Regions from separate parts of the Homo sapiens genome. Here region 2 is linked to region 1. The links come from fine-mapping of genetic effects on gene expression. Tissue or cell type: monocytes. Region 1 holds a variant in brackets; the other region holds the start of a gene. All regions are shown on one strand. Distances are between the middles of the regions. Region 1 overlaps IL17RB (interleukin 17 receptor B). Region 2 holds the start of ACTR8 (actin related protein 8).

Evidence for each region. PIP is the estimated chance that this variant, and not a neighbour inherited with it, causes the effect.
Region 2: it holds the start of ACTR8, and the variant in region 1 is fine-mapped to the expression of ACTR8 in monocytes (TOPMed, PIP 0.91).

Annotation. Positions count from the first base shown.
Region 1 is chr3:53,848,199-53,856,198 of GRCh38, reverse strand. It overlaps IL17RB (interleukin 17 receptor B), which reads right to left. Exons shown (of 11, transcript NM_018725.4): 2 at 7,511-7,535; 3 at 6,404-6,544; 4 at 4,073-4,200; 5 at 3,202-3,328; 6 at 858-905. Among named protein-coding and RNA genes, the nearest start is that of IL17RB, 5.6 kb to the right of the region's middle. The variant G/A (reference allele first, on the strand shown) is at 3,314.
Region 2 is chr3:53,878,633-53,886,679 of GRCh38, reverse strand. ACTR8 (actin related protein 8) reads left to right here and starts at 4,528. Exons shown (of 13, transcript NM_022899.5): 1 at 4,528-4,701; 2 at 6,571-6,741. The coding sequence starts at 4,579. SELENOK (selenoprotein K) reads left to right here. Exons shown (of 5, transcript NM_021237.5): 4 at 768-854; 5 at 1,119-2,263. The coding sequence ends at 1,122. RefSeq lists silencers at 4,312-4,401, 4,792-4,901 and an enhancer at 4,562-4,641.

The DNA of each region.
Region 1 (8,000 bases):
GGCCCTGGCTCAGAACTGTCTTTAGGAGTTCAGGTTCAGGACTGACTTCAAGGCCCTCTGACCTCCTCACACCTGCAGTGTTCTCTGTACCCTTGGTGGGAAGCTCAGCGTCCAAATCTGCCTTCTAGCAAGGACAGCATGGACGGCTGTCTGAAAGGGTACCAGGGATGCCTTGTGCAGTGAAGGGTGCCTAAGAGTTCTGGGCTGATCCAAATACCACTAGCCTCATTAGCATTCCAACACTATATTACTCAGAAATTTACACAAACCCTTGGAAACTGGGCACTAGGGACTAATAATCCTAAAGGGGATTACTACAAAATTCAAGGGGTAAAATTCACTAGCCTGTGAAAAGTGATCCTCTTTGAGGACACAAATTGAGAGCGTAATTGTGGGCCAGTCCTTTAGCGAACTCACACTCCCACCTCGAATGTTTGCTAATCCAAACAGAAGGTTCTTAGGATCCCCATGGCCACAGGTGGGTGGTGCTAGCATCTGAGCAGGTGGAAGGGCTCGTAGGACTCCCATCAATCAGGAAGAGCCTTTGATTGGCACTGCTGAGCCATTTGGGCTAAAATGTTGTTAACCAAGTGGATGGGGGTGGTTCTTTGTGACTGTTGCTCCACTATATAAATGTACTGAGGGTCTACCCCTTTCTGGACAGGCTGCTGCACTCAGTGGGCAAAGTACTGGCTGGAGATCAGGAGCCATAGGTGCTTCTGCCACCACCATCGGGGGTGCTTGGATATTCAACTCTCCCCTAGGGCTCAGTTCTTCTGTGCAAAGATGAAGAGAGCTATGCTGCCTCAAGTTACAAGTTTCTTCAAATAATAAAAGCAAATGCCGTATTTACTTACCGGCCTTGACACACTTTTTTTTATATTTCATTATGTGGTCTAGGCAGCCTGGAAATTTGAATGAAAGTTTTTACATTTTAGAAAAAGGTATCTCTGCCCCACCCCCTTTGCCAAGTGCACACACACATACGCATACCACACCTGTAACAAATTGCCAAAACATTCCAGATGTAAGATGGCAAATTCAAATGGGGCTCTAATTTTTTTTTTTTTTTTTTTTTTTTTGAGCCGGAGTCTTGCTCTGTCGCCTAGGCTGGAGTGCAGTGGCGCAATCTCAGCTCACTGCTAGCTCTGCCACCCAGGTTCACGCCATTCTCCTGCCTCAGGCTCCTGAGTAGCTGGGACTACAGGCGCCCGCCACCACGCCCGGCTAATTTTTTGTGGGGCTCTAACATTTTACTGCTAAACAGAGAACATCTGCCCATTACGTGATAACCAGAGTCTAATTTAAATACAGCCTTTATCAAAACAGTATCTTTGATCCCTAAGAGAGGACTCGAAAACCATCCATCATTTGAAAAGGACATTTGGTAATATCTGTAGATGCTGCCCCTTCAAGGACATGAAGCCTAACACTCCCCTATCCTCACCCCAGGGTGGGGTAGAATTAGTGACTTGTTTCCAAAAACGAGAGTTGGGAAAAACAGTAGATTTACATGGAGAAGTCTGGCAGTCCCCACATTAATCTAGTGTTGATGGTGACCCCCAGCCTGGTGTCATGTGGGTGCCATGGACCCCTGATGGGATAAGAAGGGCCCGGCACCTCTGTGGTATGAATTCCCTGTCTAATCATGAGACAAACATCAGACAAACCCACACTGGGGGACATTCTACAGGATGCCTGGTCAGAACTCAAGACTGTCAACGTTCTGAAAAACAAAGACTAAGAAACTGTTACAGACCAGAGGAGAGACACACAGGGACTAAATGCAACTGGAACAGAAAGAGGACATTCATGAAAAAGCAGGTGAAGTCCAAATAAAGTCTGGAGTTTAGTTAACAGACACGTACTAATGTTGGTTTCTTAGTTTTGACAAATGTATCATGGTAATACAAGACGTTAATAGGAGAAGCTGGGTGAGAGGTATATGGAAACTGTACTATCTTTGCAACTTTTCTGTAAATCTAAAATTATTCCAAAATAAGGCTGGGTACGGTGGCTCACTCCTGTAATCCCAGCACTTTGGGAGGCCAAGGTAGGCAGATCACCCGAGGTTAGGAGTTTGAGACTAGCCTAGCCATCATAGTGAAACCCCGTCTCTACTAAAAATACAAAAATTAGCTGGGTGTGGTGGCTCATGACTGTAATCCTAGCTTCTTGGGAGGCTGAGGCAGGAGAATCACTTAAATCCAAGAGGCGGAGGTTGCAGTGAGCTGAGATGGTGCCACTGCACTCCAGCCAGGGCAACAAGAGCAAAACCCCGTCTAAAAAATAAATAAATAAATAAATAATAAAATAAAAGAATTCCAAAATAAAAAAGCTTATTTGAAAACAAAATGAGGTTTGCTCTCATCAAGAAAGTTGGAAACCACGTGTAGTAAATGGTGCAGCACCAAAAACACCCTGGACCACAATCTCCAAGACCAGCAGTGAATTGGAAATTACCGTTTGGCTTTGATGCCTTGCCTGTGACAGATGACAGGATGGTGGTATGGGATGGGTGACTCGGCTCAGATAGACCCTTCACACACACCATCCTGTCTCATCCTCATCACAGCCCTGTGTGTGACATTGCAGCTGTGGTACCAGAGAACTGGTCCTGTGTCACAAAGCTGGGGCAAGGGCCCAGCATCCAACTCAGGACCACCCTGCCTCTCATGGACAGCTTGGGGACAAGCCAACTGGAGTCTGTAGATTCTCAGAGGCCCAGCCATATGCAGCCCACTCTAGAAAGCTGAGATAGGAACGAACAAACATTTTGCATCAGTGATATAAAGAGTGGCTCAGGTGCATTGCTCTAGAAGGACCAAAGTGTGAATGTCAGCTTCACTTTTATGTGTGTATAACCCAGGGAAAGTGACTTAACCTCTCAGTTTCTTCATCTGTAAAATGCAGCTATCCCAACCTTGGGGTTGCTGAGATGCTTAAGTGAGATGATGCATATCAAGTATTCAGCACAGTGCCTGGCATACAGGAACAGACTTTTTCCTACATTTTACCTGACTTTATTCTCTCTGCTCTGTGGGTAAAGTATGGTTACTACTGTGTCCATGCTTTAGATAAGGGAACTGAGATTTAGCAAGGCCAAAAGCCTTATCCAGGGTTCCCTGGGCTCTCTCTGTGCATATCGCAAAGCAGGCATCCCAGCAAGACAAAGAATAATAAACAAATGAGGAAGTTTACCTGGTGAGGTGAAATTCACAGACATGGAAGGGCCATCTTCATTCATATTTGCATTAGGAATATTATGGGCCCCAATGAAATAGACTGTGTTCAGCTCTACAGGGAAGCCGAT[G/A]TAGGAAAATGTCCACTGAAAGGCAAAGCAAGGAACTCTCAATTCCCAAAACACTGCAGTACAGAAACAGTATACCTTAGTGTGTTGCCCTTTTAGTTTGTATTTCATTACTCACTCTGTGAAAACTTAGGTCTCCAACCAATGTCTACTTAGGGAATGGGCACTAAACAATTTACAGAATCAGAGAAGTATAAAGTTTTAAAGCCAGGATATAATTTAAGTCCAATTCTCTTCCATTGGCTGGTAGGGAAAAACTGAGGCCCAGAGATGCTGACTTACAAAAGGCACAAAACAGAGAAGTAGCCGAAAATGGGATTTGAACCAAGGGATCTTGCTCTAAGCTCTGAGTCATAGCTATTTACCAGCCCGTGTGAGCAGCACATCATCCATGCTCCCCAAACAAAGGGCATAGCTTTCAGCAACAATTAGCCAAATACATAAAAGTGTCTATGCCCGGATACAGTGGCTCATACCTGTAATCCCAGCACTTTGGGAAGCTGAGGCAGGCAGATCGCTTGAGCACTGGAATTCAAGACCAGCAACACGGTGAAACCCCCCTCTACAAAAACTACAAAAATTAGCCAGGTCTGGTGGCTCATGCCTGTAGTCCCAGCTGCTTGGGAGGCTGAAGTAGAACGATCGCTTGAGCCCAGAAGATTGAGGTCGCAGTGAGCCATGATCGCACCACTGCACTCCAGCCTGGGTGACAGAACAAGATGCTATCTCAAAAAACAAAACAAAAAACAAAAAAGTGCTTACTTTACCACCAGAGGGTCTGGTCTGAGTCTGGAAGGCCTCTGTGTAATTGCACCTCACACAGCTGTAGGACTGGAAGTTGCTTTTGCCCGTCACACAAATCTTGGTGGCCTTCAACAAGCGGATGCTGGCTGCCGAGATAGGCAAGAGGACATTGGTTTATTTAGCACTTGCTGTGTGGCTGACTTGATGCTAGATGCTTTACTAGCATGCTTTATTTTATGTCTCGGTTCATATTCACAATAGTACTGAAAGGTAGGCACCACTGTCTCCAGTTTACAGATGGGGTTCGTGAGGCTTAGGAAGTTTCAGGGAGCTCTGCTTAAACTTAGAAAACTCATCAGCAAGTAGCAGATACGAATTCAGATTCCAAAGCCCAAGCTCCCTCCTCCTCATAGGTCAGCTTGAATTTCATAGGATGCCTGCAAAGGTGGCTATAGCTCTGCACTATTCTGGGTCTCTTTTAAGAGGAAGAGGCTGGCCTCAGGGAGACCCACAAAGACCCTCCAAGACTGTCATCACCAAACCACACCTGTTCCGATTGCACCTTTATCCATGCTGATTCTTCTCCCTGAAGGTCCTTTCCTCCCATTATCTACCTCTTCAAGTTTCACTCTTTTAAAGCCCAACTCACTCATGCACCACAGCCCATAACCACAGCTGACAAAGAGCTCACTCTGTGCCAGGTAAGGGCCCAAACCCTTATGGCCACATCTCACCTAAAGCAACCTCACCAGAGACCCTTTCCAGCTCCTCTCGCCCTATCCCACTCAGATGAAGCACAGCTCCCTTCTGGGACTCCCCTGACATTGTGCCTGTGTCTGCCTCCCCTACCCCTCTGAATCCTCCTGGGTGGAGACTGTAGGTGACTCCTCTCTCTGTGCCTGGCACTCATGGATTCTTGACCAGGTAGACTTTTTTCCGATCTGAATTTAGCAGATGGAAACCAAAAGGATGGGCATTAGGATCCCAGGAGTAGCTCACTGAAAGAACTCATATGGTGCCTTGCAGCACAATCTTGGGGAAATGCCAAAAGCTTCGTGACGTCATCTGGGAAGTGGAAAAGTAATCTATCTAAGCCAGTGCTTTCCCTAAACTGAAGTGGGGTGGGGAAAATCATCTCTCGCCTTACCTTATCTTCTTCCATGAAGTACATACACAGAAAAGTACACACATAAGTGTACCACTTGATGCATCGGGACACTCATGCAACCAGTATGCAGGTTAAGAAACTCCCTCAGGTGTGCTCCTCATACTTCCTTACAGTTATTCCTACCCCAGCAGGAACCACTACCCTGACTTTTATTTTATTTTATTTTATTTTATTTTGAGACAGTCTCTCTGTCACCCAGGCAGGAGTGCAATGGCACAGTCTCAACTCACTGCAACCTCCACCTCCTGGGTTCAAGTTATTCTCCTGCCTCAGCCTCCCAAGTAGCTGGGATTACAGGCATGTGCCACCATGCCTGGCTAATTTTTTGTATTTTTAGGAGAGATGGAGTTTCACCATGTTGGCCAGGCTGGTCTTGAACTCCTGACCTCAAGTAATCTACCCGCCTTGGCCTCCCAAAGTGCTGGGATTACAGGCATGCGCCACCACGCCTGGTCTTTTGCTTTTTTTTTTTTTTTTGAGACGGAGTTTCACTCTGTTGCCCAGGCTGCTGGAGTGCAGTGGTGCGATCACAGCTCACTGCAAGCTCCGCCTCCTGGGTTCAAGCGATTCTCGTGCCTCAGCCTCCCGAGTAGCTGGGATTACAGGTGTGCAACACCACATCTGGCTAATTTTTGTATTCTTAGTAGAGATGGGGTTTTGCCATGTTGGCCAGGCTGGTCTCGAACTCCTGGCCTCAAGTGATCCACCCACCTCGGCCTCCCAAAGTGCTGGGATTACAGGCGTTAGCCACCGCTCCTGGCTACTATCCTGACTTCTAAACACTAGATTGGTTTTGTTTGCTTGGCACTTTCTGTAAATGGGATCATATGGCATGTATGCCTGCAGGCATGCACACAGATATAAATGTACAAACTCTTTTGAATCTGCCTTATGTTTGTGACATTCATCCATATTGTTGTACGTAGTTACAGATCATTCATTCTTGTTGCTGTGACGGAATTTATCTGGTGATTCCTTTCTACTGTTGGGCATTTGAGTGCTTTCTAATGTTGCCTGTTGTAAGTAGTGCTACTGCGATCACCCTAGTATGTGGCTTTTGGTGCGTGTATGCATGTATTTCTGTTGGTTATGCGTAGAAGGGGAATTAATGGTTCATATAGTCTGCACATTTCTGATTTAGTAGACACTTTGGGCCTTATCTCTGATGGATGCAAACTTACCATCTGCCCGGAGTACCCAGCTTACATTCATCAAAATTGAATAGTCCCCTGTTGCAACACTAGTTGTAACAGGTTCTACTCGGAGGTCCCTCAAGTCTCCGGGGATTAGATCATGTTGTAGCATCCACTCTGGAGATGGCCCTGGGAAAAAGCAAGACTTCCATGACACTGTCTTTCCCAGCCCAGTCTGATGCCATGCCATCTCCTCTCAGTGACTCACACCAAACCTTCCCCCATTCACAATTCCTCACTTCTTTTTTTTTTAATTAAAAAAATGTTTTTTGTAGAGATGGGGTCTCACTCTGTTGCCTAAGATGATCTCAAACTCCTGGCCTCAAATGATCCTCCCACCTCAGCCTCCCAAAGTGCTTGGATTATAGGTATAAGCCACCACGCCTGACCCAATTCCTCAGTTCTTCCTGCTAAGGCCAAATGTTTCTTAGCGCTGGCTGATTTATAGCCCAGATAATTTTGATCTAACAGAAGTACTCTCAACCTCCTGGCTTTCACCTACAGAGCACGTGGGACCACTCCAGGTACCTGTGTATGTACACATGTATATATTTAGTGTATTTGACATGTTTATTAGAGTCAGGCCTGCCTTCCTCAGGCTTTGGCCCTGGATTCCAGCCAGCTGGCCCACACAGCCCCCACTTTCCCACCTCCTAACCTTTGCTGGTGCCATCTCTCCTCCAGCTCACTCTTCCTACCCACATTTTTTGGGCAGAAGCCTACCCATTCTTCAAATGCCACCATCTCAAACACCCGCTCTCCTATGAAACATTTGCTTCTCGGTCCCAACTCTAAGTGACCTTCCTTCCACGGCCTTGATCTCCCTCTGCAGAGTGGCAGGCATCACTTTCCACCTTGTATGGCAAGTCCCATCTTGACTGGCCAAGAGGCTAGCCTGTCTGAAACACGGCCTCATTCCCACAGAGCCCCAGAGTTCTGCTTCGAGCAGACAGAGACTTCATCTGCATCAGCCAATAAAGCAATGGGTCACCCTGTGTCTGGTCTTCGATGACCTATTGCCTATATTAGGCTTCCTAAAAGTCCAACTGTGCTTTCAATGTAAAGCCCCAAATACCCATTCTCTAATGCACCTACCAGTTTCAGAGCCACATTGAACGGTCTGTGGGAGAGAAAAAACCAAGCGTCACGTTGAAGCCGGCAAACCACAAGCTTTCCTTTGCCAAATTAGGCAGAACACCATTTTCCCCTTAAATGCATATACAAGTGACAAACTTTCAAAGAAAAGATGAACTGGTTCTGCTTCACAGCTTAGGGGGGAACTAAGCTGTCCCACTGTAGGCTATGACGGACCATGGATTAGCCATCAGTATACCTGATCCTCAAGCCAGTGCATAACCTCACTTGAAGACCACAGGTGGGTCTCCATCTGTCTCTGGATGTCATCCTTCCCTGCTGCAAGCAGGGGATGACTTGGGACCGATGTGAGGCCCCTTCACACTCTAATGTTTAACTCTAGGTTTTTAGGACGGCCTAGAGTATTTACTGGGCTACCCCAGGTTAAGGAGTAGCTATGCTAAGGAGATAAACAAAAGAAAGCTCTGAATGCAGTCCATGGTACTTTCCT
Region 2 (8,047 bases), 30 kb before region 1:
AGTTAATCTGACAAAGCTAAAATATACATGAAATATCCCATGGAAAAAGTCTAAATTAGAGGGTGAAAACTGATGGCCACCATTAAAATCTAAAGATTTCATTTTAACATCTGGATTTCTAGTTGCTAATTAAAAACTTAGAAGATCGCCAGGCACGGTGGCTTGAGCCTGTAATCCCAGCACTTTGGGAGGCTGAGGCGGGTGGATCACGAGGTCAAGAGATCGAGACCATCCTGACCAACATGATGAAACCCCGTCTCTACTAAAATACAAAAATTAGCTGGGTGTGGTGGTATGCGCCTGTAGTCCCAGCTACTCAGGAGGCTGAGGCAGGAGAATTGTTTGAACCCAGGAGGTAGAGGTTGCAGTGAGCTGAGATCGTGCCACTGCACTCCAGCCTGGAGACAGAGTGGGACTCCATCTCAAAAAAAAAGCCGTAAAGATCAAGATCAAGTAGCACTGGGCTAGGCTTATGTTTCTACCTGGCAAAAATCAGCTGGAGCTGGGTTTCAGTGGGGCATTACTGGAGGTGCTATTCAGTTCATCACAGTCCTTTCTTGACTCAGTTCCTTGTGTGCATTATGTGTCTGGTCCCTTTAAGTGTTTTAATTTTTGCCTCCTGACCTAAAATGGTAGTTTCTATTTTAAATTGTGTTTTAGGGTCATGTGGGTGCTGAAAAAGAAAAGGGTCTAGTTGAGTGCTTTTAAAAGGAGACAATTCAAGTTGTGTCTATCAAACAGTAGATACTAACTTTTTATTTTATTAGGCCACCAGGAAACCCTCCCCGAAGAATGGGTAGAATCAATCATCTGCGTGGCCCTAGTCCCCCTCCAATGGCTGGTGGATGAGGAAGGTAACTTCAGATCTGAAATTCTTTTGTAGGATTTTGTTTTGAAAACACTTCTGTAGTAATGTTTTCTTTAAGAAGTTGCCCAGCAGCTTATAATTACTCAGACATTATTTGGAAATATATTTGTTATCTTAACCCTTGAAAAATTCACTGGCCTTGTTATCAAAATGTCTTTTGAGAAAGATTTTATAACATGTAATATGTTGAGGTTTTCACACAGATCCAAATTAATAACCAGTAACTAATTATTGTAACATTTTCTTTCAGGTAAATGTCTGCTCTAAGAAGCAGACAACCGGACATGCGCATTCATAGCAGAAGGAAACCATCAAGAAGTGGAAGGCTGACCATGATGAGCAGTAGATGAATGTGTATGTCTAAACAAGGACTGCTCTGTGTCCTCACAGATGAATGAGGTCATGCTGGGAATTCCCTCTGCAGGGAACTGGCCTGACTGACATGCAGTTCCATAAATGCAGATGTTTGTCTCATTACCTTTTTGTATAGTTTATTAAAGTATTAATATAGTTTTAATAAGTAAATATTTTTAGGTTGCAGAATGGACTCCTCATCTTTATATTCACGAAAAAGCAATCTGAAGAAAACAAATAAAAGCCTGTGTATTTAGCACTGTTAGTGTCACCTTTTCAACTTCTGAAACACTGTTCATTGTTAACTTTTTCTCATTTATAAATCACTGTATTTATTTTAGTAGTATGCATAGCATATCTGTGCTCTTGAATTAATTTTTATCTTTAACATATTTGTCTCATCAATCTTTAATACACTGTGTCTAATTTGCTACCAAATGTAATTATCAGGGTATTTATAAAACCATAGCTAACAAAACTGAGCTACAAAATGAAAATTTACTAAATAGTTTTTAAAATCATGGACTTCAGCCTGGCGCGGTGGCTCATGCCTGTAATCCCAGCACTGTGGGAGGCTGAGGCGGGCAGATCGCCTAAGTTCACGAGTTTGAGACCAGCCTGCAGCATGACGAAACCTAAAATAACAAAAATTAGCCAGGCGTGGTAGAGTGCACCTGTAATCCCTGCTACTCAGGAGGCGGAGGCAGGAGAATCGCTTCAACCCGGGAGGCGGAGGTTGCTGTGAGCATGCCACTGCACTCCTGCCTAGGCAACAGAGTGAGACCCTGTCTCAAAAAAATAAATAAAACCATGGGCTTCCATGCTATCTTGACAAATTTGCACTCTATAGCATCACTCAAAATACTGCCTATTGGCTTTAAACTCCATCTGAATACTGATAACTTTCACATTCTTTCACTAGAGTGGAAGCTCTGAGACTAGGAATTTTGTTGTCTTTACCCCAGTCCTTTGAATAGTGACTACATGTAAGATAGTCATGTAGTATTTATTGGAAATAAATATTTATTGGAAAAACGAAAACAGATAATTCCTCTTCTGGTGTTTAACAGGCTTTGAAACCAAGTGTTCAGGTGAAAGCCTTTTTATATTGATTTATCAGCATTTATTCAACCCCGTTTGTCGGGAAATGGGATGTTGTGGCATAAGATACCAATATTCAGGATAAAGAAGCAATTACAATGCAGGTTTCAGGATAAGGATAACAGTTTGCTGGCCACCTCAATTATGTGTCAGATTTTATTTATTTTTTAATTTTTATTTTATTTTTATTTTTTATTTTTATTTTTGAGACAGGGTCTCACTCTTATCCAGGCTGGAGTACAGTGGCTGCTCACTGCAGCCTTGACCTTTTGGGCTAAAGTGATCTCCCACTATGGCCTCCCTAAACGCTGGGATTACACGTGTGAGCCACAATGCCCAGCCTGTAAATTTTTACACATTTTAAATTCTGACAAAGTGAGGGATATGTATAATGTATACATATATACAAAGTGAGGTAAATGTATAATGACATTTGCATTATACAGATACATGCAAGGGTTCAGTAAAGTTTGGCAGCTTCCTAGATTGTATTGCCAGTGAATGGCAGAGGCATTATTAAACCTCCACCTTACCCTATAGCGGGGAGACCATGGCAGAGTCTCAGTAGGTGGTTGATTGTTGTTACTGATGGCTCTTCCTGAGCATGTGAACCATGGTCCTCTTCTGCCTCCTAGCACTGCTGCTGCAGGACTTGTTCCTCGGGTCTTATCCCAGAGTTCTGGCTGCATTTGACATTCAGGTATTCTTCTTTGCACTTCAGATAGAATGTAAAACACAGGTTCTTGAGTACTTTATGCTTAACTCTTGTCTTTGCTACTCAATAGCTTATGATCTTGAGTGAATTATGCCATTTTATCCCACTTCACTCACCTGTAAAACGGGGATTAAATTTTTACCTCCAAGAGTTCTTTATTTAGTATTTAGTCATCACATGCTTATTGGGCACCTACCATGTGCTGAAGATAACTGGCAAAGTCTCACGGAGCTTACATTCTAGTGTGGGAGACAGTGAGCAGGCATGATAATTACAGACTAATGCTTCATGCTTCAAAGGGAATAGGATGATGAGAGAATAACTGCGGAAGGCCTGAGGTGACATTTGAGTTCAGACGTGAGAATGAGACAGCTGAGGGAAGAGCATCCAAGGCAAAATGAACAGCAAGTGCAACAGCCCGATGACGGGAAGGGCTTGGCATGTCTGAGAAAGATAAAACAGGTGTAGCTGGAAATGCCAAGGAATGGGGAGAGTGTTGTGAGGTGAACTTAGAAATGTAGCAATAACTAGATATGGTCTTTAGGTGGTGGTTAGTTTAGATTCTGTTCTTTGAGCAAAGGGAAACCATTAGAGTTTAAAGCATGAGTGACATCTAATTTTTGAGGTAAGTCTTAGTGGAGTGCTGGGTACATAGTAGTATTAACTACGTAATATTTTAAAACAACGTGGGCAACTATATAAGAACAGATCATAGGGGGACAGGACAAGGAGTTCGAGTTAAGAGGCTGTTGTAGTCATCCAGGTGAGATGATAGTGGCTTGGGCTAGGTAGTGGCATGGGAATGGAGAAGTGGATGAATTCAAGATCTATTTTAGAGACTGCAGGATTTACTGATGGATTGGATGTAGAAGCTGTCAACAAGTGAAGAATCAAAATGACATTTACTGAGATGGTGAAAGTGAGAGGGGAGGGAATCAAGAGTTAAATTTTGGACATATTTAAGTTTGCAGTGCCTTGTAGACAATCCAGATGGAGAGACCAAGTAGGCACTGGTTATCAGTACGGATCTCTCTGAGCGGTTCATCCTGGATATATATATTTGGGAATCGTATTCATTGCTAAAGCCAGGAAACTGGATAGTCACCCAAGGAGTGTGCCTGGAAAAGACCTAACCCCAACATCAGAGGCTGGACTGAACATGAAGACATATGAGAAAAACTAAGAGTACATATGGTATCTGGGAAGCCAGGAGAAGAGATGCCTGTGAGGACGAAATAAGATGCGGGTTATCAGCCGACCCCCACTAGGCGCTCGAAAAGCTATGTGTACTATGTTGCTGGCATCTACACAGTCAGGACTAATCACAGCAACACCCACCCAATCAATCCGCATGCACACCCCGCCCCCAGCCCCTGCGCCGGGCAGCCCCACCCCCGCCTTTTCGGAGCCCTCTGGGGCGACTCCGCGGCGGCCATCTTGACTGTGGGCAGCCGGCCGTGCGCCTGCGCGGTGGCCCTTCCATCCCGGCAGTCGTGGCTGCAGCGCTGAGGCGAGAGGTTGGTGGGTGTCTCCGGCCATAATGACCCAGGCTGAGAAGGGTGATACGGAGAACGGAAAGGAGAAGGGCGGCGAGAAGGAGAAGGAGCAGCGCGGCGTGAAGCGGCCCATCGTGCCCGCGCTGGTGCCGGAGTCGCTGCAAGAGGTGCGGCTCTGGCTGGGTTGGAACTCTTTGCCCTTGCTTGGGTCCTCCGCTGCCAGGCAAGGGGCGGGAGGCGGCGGGAGGCTTCGAGTCCCCCTTGCAGGCCCCAGCCCCTGGTGGGGGGAGTGCGGAAGCGGTCGTTCTTTTCCGGGTGGTGGCGCGCCGGGACGCCGAGGGCTGGGAGGTGCGGAGCGCCAGGAGCCAGGCGGAGCCCCCGCAGGGACACCGCTCCGATCTCCCGCACGCCCCACCGTCTGGTTGTGTGCGCTCCTGCCCGGGCTCTGGCCTCAGCTTCCCCGACCATAAAACGACCACGGTGATAACCAGCCGCCTCGCAAGTTGCCGTGAGGGTTAAATGGTGGCAGATAGAGTTTAGGACCAGGCTGGCTCACTGGGAGCGTCAGCCTGTGCTTGTTAAGGGATAGTTTGGGGTCCAGGCTTTTTCCTTTGTTAAGGAAATCTCAGATAATGGAAGTCATTTCAAGCTTAAAAGCAAGGAAATGGTGGACATTTGTCTAAATATATATTAAGAGCTTGTGTATCAAAAACAACACTATTAGACCAAACTAAACTAACCAGAAAAAATTATTTGCAGTAGCGTGCCTGGCAGAGGACCTTAGATGTATACACATACACAAAACCTTACTGATCAGTAACTAAAACAGCATTCACGTAGGAAAACGGGCACAGGCAGTGTACAATTCACAGAAGAAATGAGGCATAAACTGCTCAGAAATTCATGTAGGACATCTCTGATCCAGCTTCCTTACCGGTAGATGGGTTAAGGATAATACCTAACTAGTAGGGCAGCTACTAGTTAGTTATCACTAGTATGACAGTGCCTGGCACACCGTAAGCCCAGAGTGGCCATTACTGTTGCACAGGCCTGGTTTCTCCATCTGTCTAGTTGAGAAGGCTGACTGGATGGTCTGTAAGGGCCTTGCCAGATCCTTCCCTCTAGGATTCTCCCACTCTGTGGGGGGTGATTAGGAGGAGAGAGGTCACACTTGGAGATAGGACAACAGGTATCAGAGCATGGCATGGAATGGGCTTGTGCAGAGGGCAGTATTGGGCACTCAAGCAAGTACCTCCTCCATCCCCGACAGTCAGGGAGGGTTTCTTCAAAGGAGGTGAGGTGACATCTGTTTAGAGTCCTGAAGGTGATTAGGAGCTAACCAGAGGGAGGAGGGAATCTCAGGGAAGAAGAACAGTGTGGAAGACACTTGTGCCAACAGAGGATGTGAAGTGTTGGAGGCCCAGCCAGTAGATTAGGATGTCTGGAGTTAAGGAAGGGGACTGAAGATCTTAGCAGGGGCCATATCATGAGGGTCGTGTAAGCCACAGAGTCTGACCTCTTGTGAAGGCAGTGGATCACGTTGAAAGGCTTTACTATAGTAAGAGCCAACATTCCTCGAATGCTTCCTGTGGCCCAGCTCTGAGTTACATGTATAACTCATTTAATTCTCACAGTAACTGTGAGTTAGGAGCTTCATTCAGAGCAAGGAAGTGGCAGTCTGAATTTGCAGACAGATCCGTGAATTCAGAGCCTGGGCCCGGATTCTATAGCAACATTTCTTCAGTCACATAAATGCTCAATAACTGTATGTTAATTTGTAGTGGACAATTTTTGTTTCATTTATTTAAACAAATATTTGTTGAGCTATGTACTATAACTCAGGTCAAGGGAACATAATAAACAATGAGTTTGTGTTTAGGTAGAGAGCGGTAATTGGATACTTCTCAAAGAACTTTATTGAATTATTTTGATACCTTTGAGTCAGCTTCTTAGTTTAGCTTGTTATGTGTATGTTGTTTAACTTTGTTACCTGCATATTATTTACAAAGTCACACATCTATGTTTTATATCTGCAGCAAATCCAGAGCAACTTCATCATTGTCATACATCCAGGTTCAACAACTTTAAGGATTGGTCGAGCCACAGACACTCTTCCTGCCAGCATTCCTCACGTCATTGCCCGAAGACACAAACAACAAGGGCAGCCCCTATACAAGGACAGTTGGCTCCTAAGGGAGGGACTAAATGTAAGTCAAAAACGACCTGGAGAGAAAGCCTAAGGTTGTTTCCCTGGGAGGGCTTAGACACAAGTACACCAGAATCTTAAAGAAACATCTTCATAGCTTTGCTGTGTTTTAAAACATTAATAATGTCACTAATTTTTCATCAGAGCTAGTGACTTTAGATGTAAAGAATTAGTTACAACAAAAGTAAGTCTTTCAGGGTGAATTGAGTGTGGATGAAGGTGATCTATAATGGAAGACACAAAATCATCACTCACAGTAATACATTCAGGTCCTTGTTAACAGGCTTAAACTTATGGATTAAGCCATATTTAAACTGTAAATATCTCTTTCAGATACTTACAGTTTAAGTCAATAAGTCAAACTCTTATTTTCAATCCATTAGCAAATTAGATTGTTACAATAAGCACTTATTATGGTCTTAGATTAACCATAATTTCAAGGCAAAAAAAAAATTTTCTTGCAGTAAGCATCTACTTTATCCTATGTTGCAGATGGTAATTATCAGGAAAATTCTTTGTGATCAATGATAAATCTATATATTACATCATAATCCACATTTTACTTTGAAGTTTTAAGTCAAGGATAGTTTTGGGAATGTAAAGTTTCTTTAATTCTGATAGTAGGCCTTAGGGTTCCATTTTTTAGTGTAACAAGCAGACTCTACGTAAGTCTAGTTGTAAGTTTAAATATAACTTGCTGATATAAGAGTCCGCACTTCATTATTTATCTTTGGATCTTATAATTCTACTTTAGGGAGTACGTTTAAGAAATAAAAATCAAAAGAAAACATTTCTGTAAAGATATTTATGGGCATTTTCTTTATACTATAATAACGAGAACCAGTAAGTTTATGGCTTAACCAAAAAGTTTAAGCCTTGCTGATCAACATATGAAGGAATGTGTCATTGTCAAAACTGTAAACATAAGAATTATATAATTGTATGGAAGAGTCTCTGAAATATTTTTTAAACATGAAGTAGGTATGCTTTGATTAGTGCTGTGAGAAATTTTATGAAAAATCACTTGAAAATTTTGCATATAGTTGTTTTATAGTGAGGGCTGCTTTTGACTTATTTATAATAAAAGATTCCTGGGAATTCTTTTTTTCTTTTCTTGAGACAGGGTCTTGCTCTCTTCTTCAGGCTGGAGTACAGTGGTGCGATCTCGGCTCATTGCACCTTCCACCTCCTGGGCTCAAGCAATCTTTCCACCTTAGTCTCCCAAGTAGCTGGGACCACAGGCCTGTGCCACCACACCCAGCTAATTTCTTGTATTTTTTGTAGAGATGGTGTTTTGCCATGTTGCC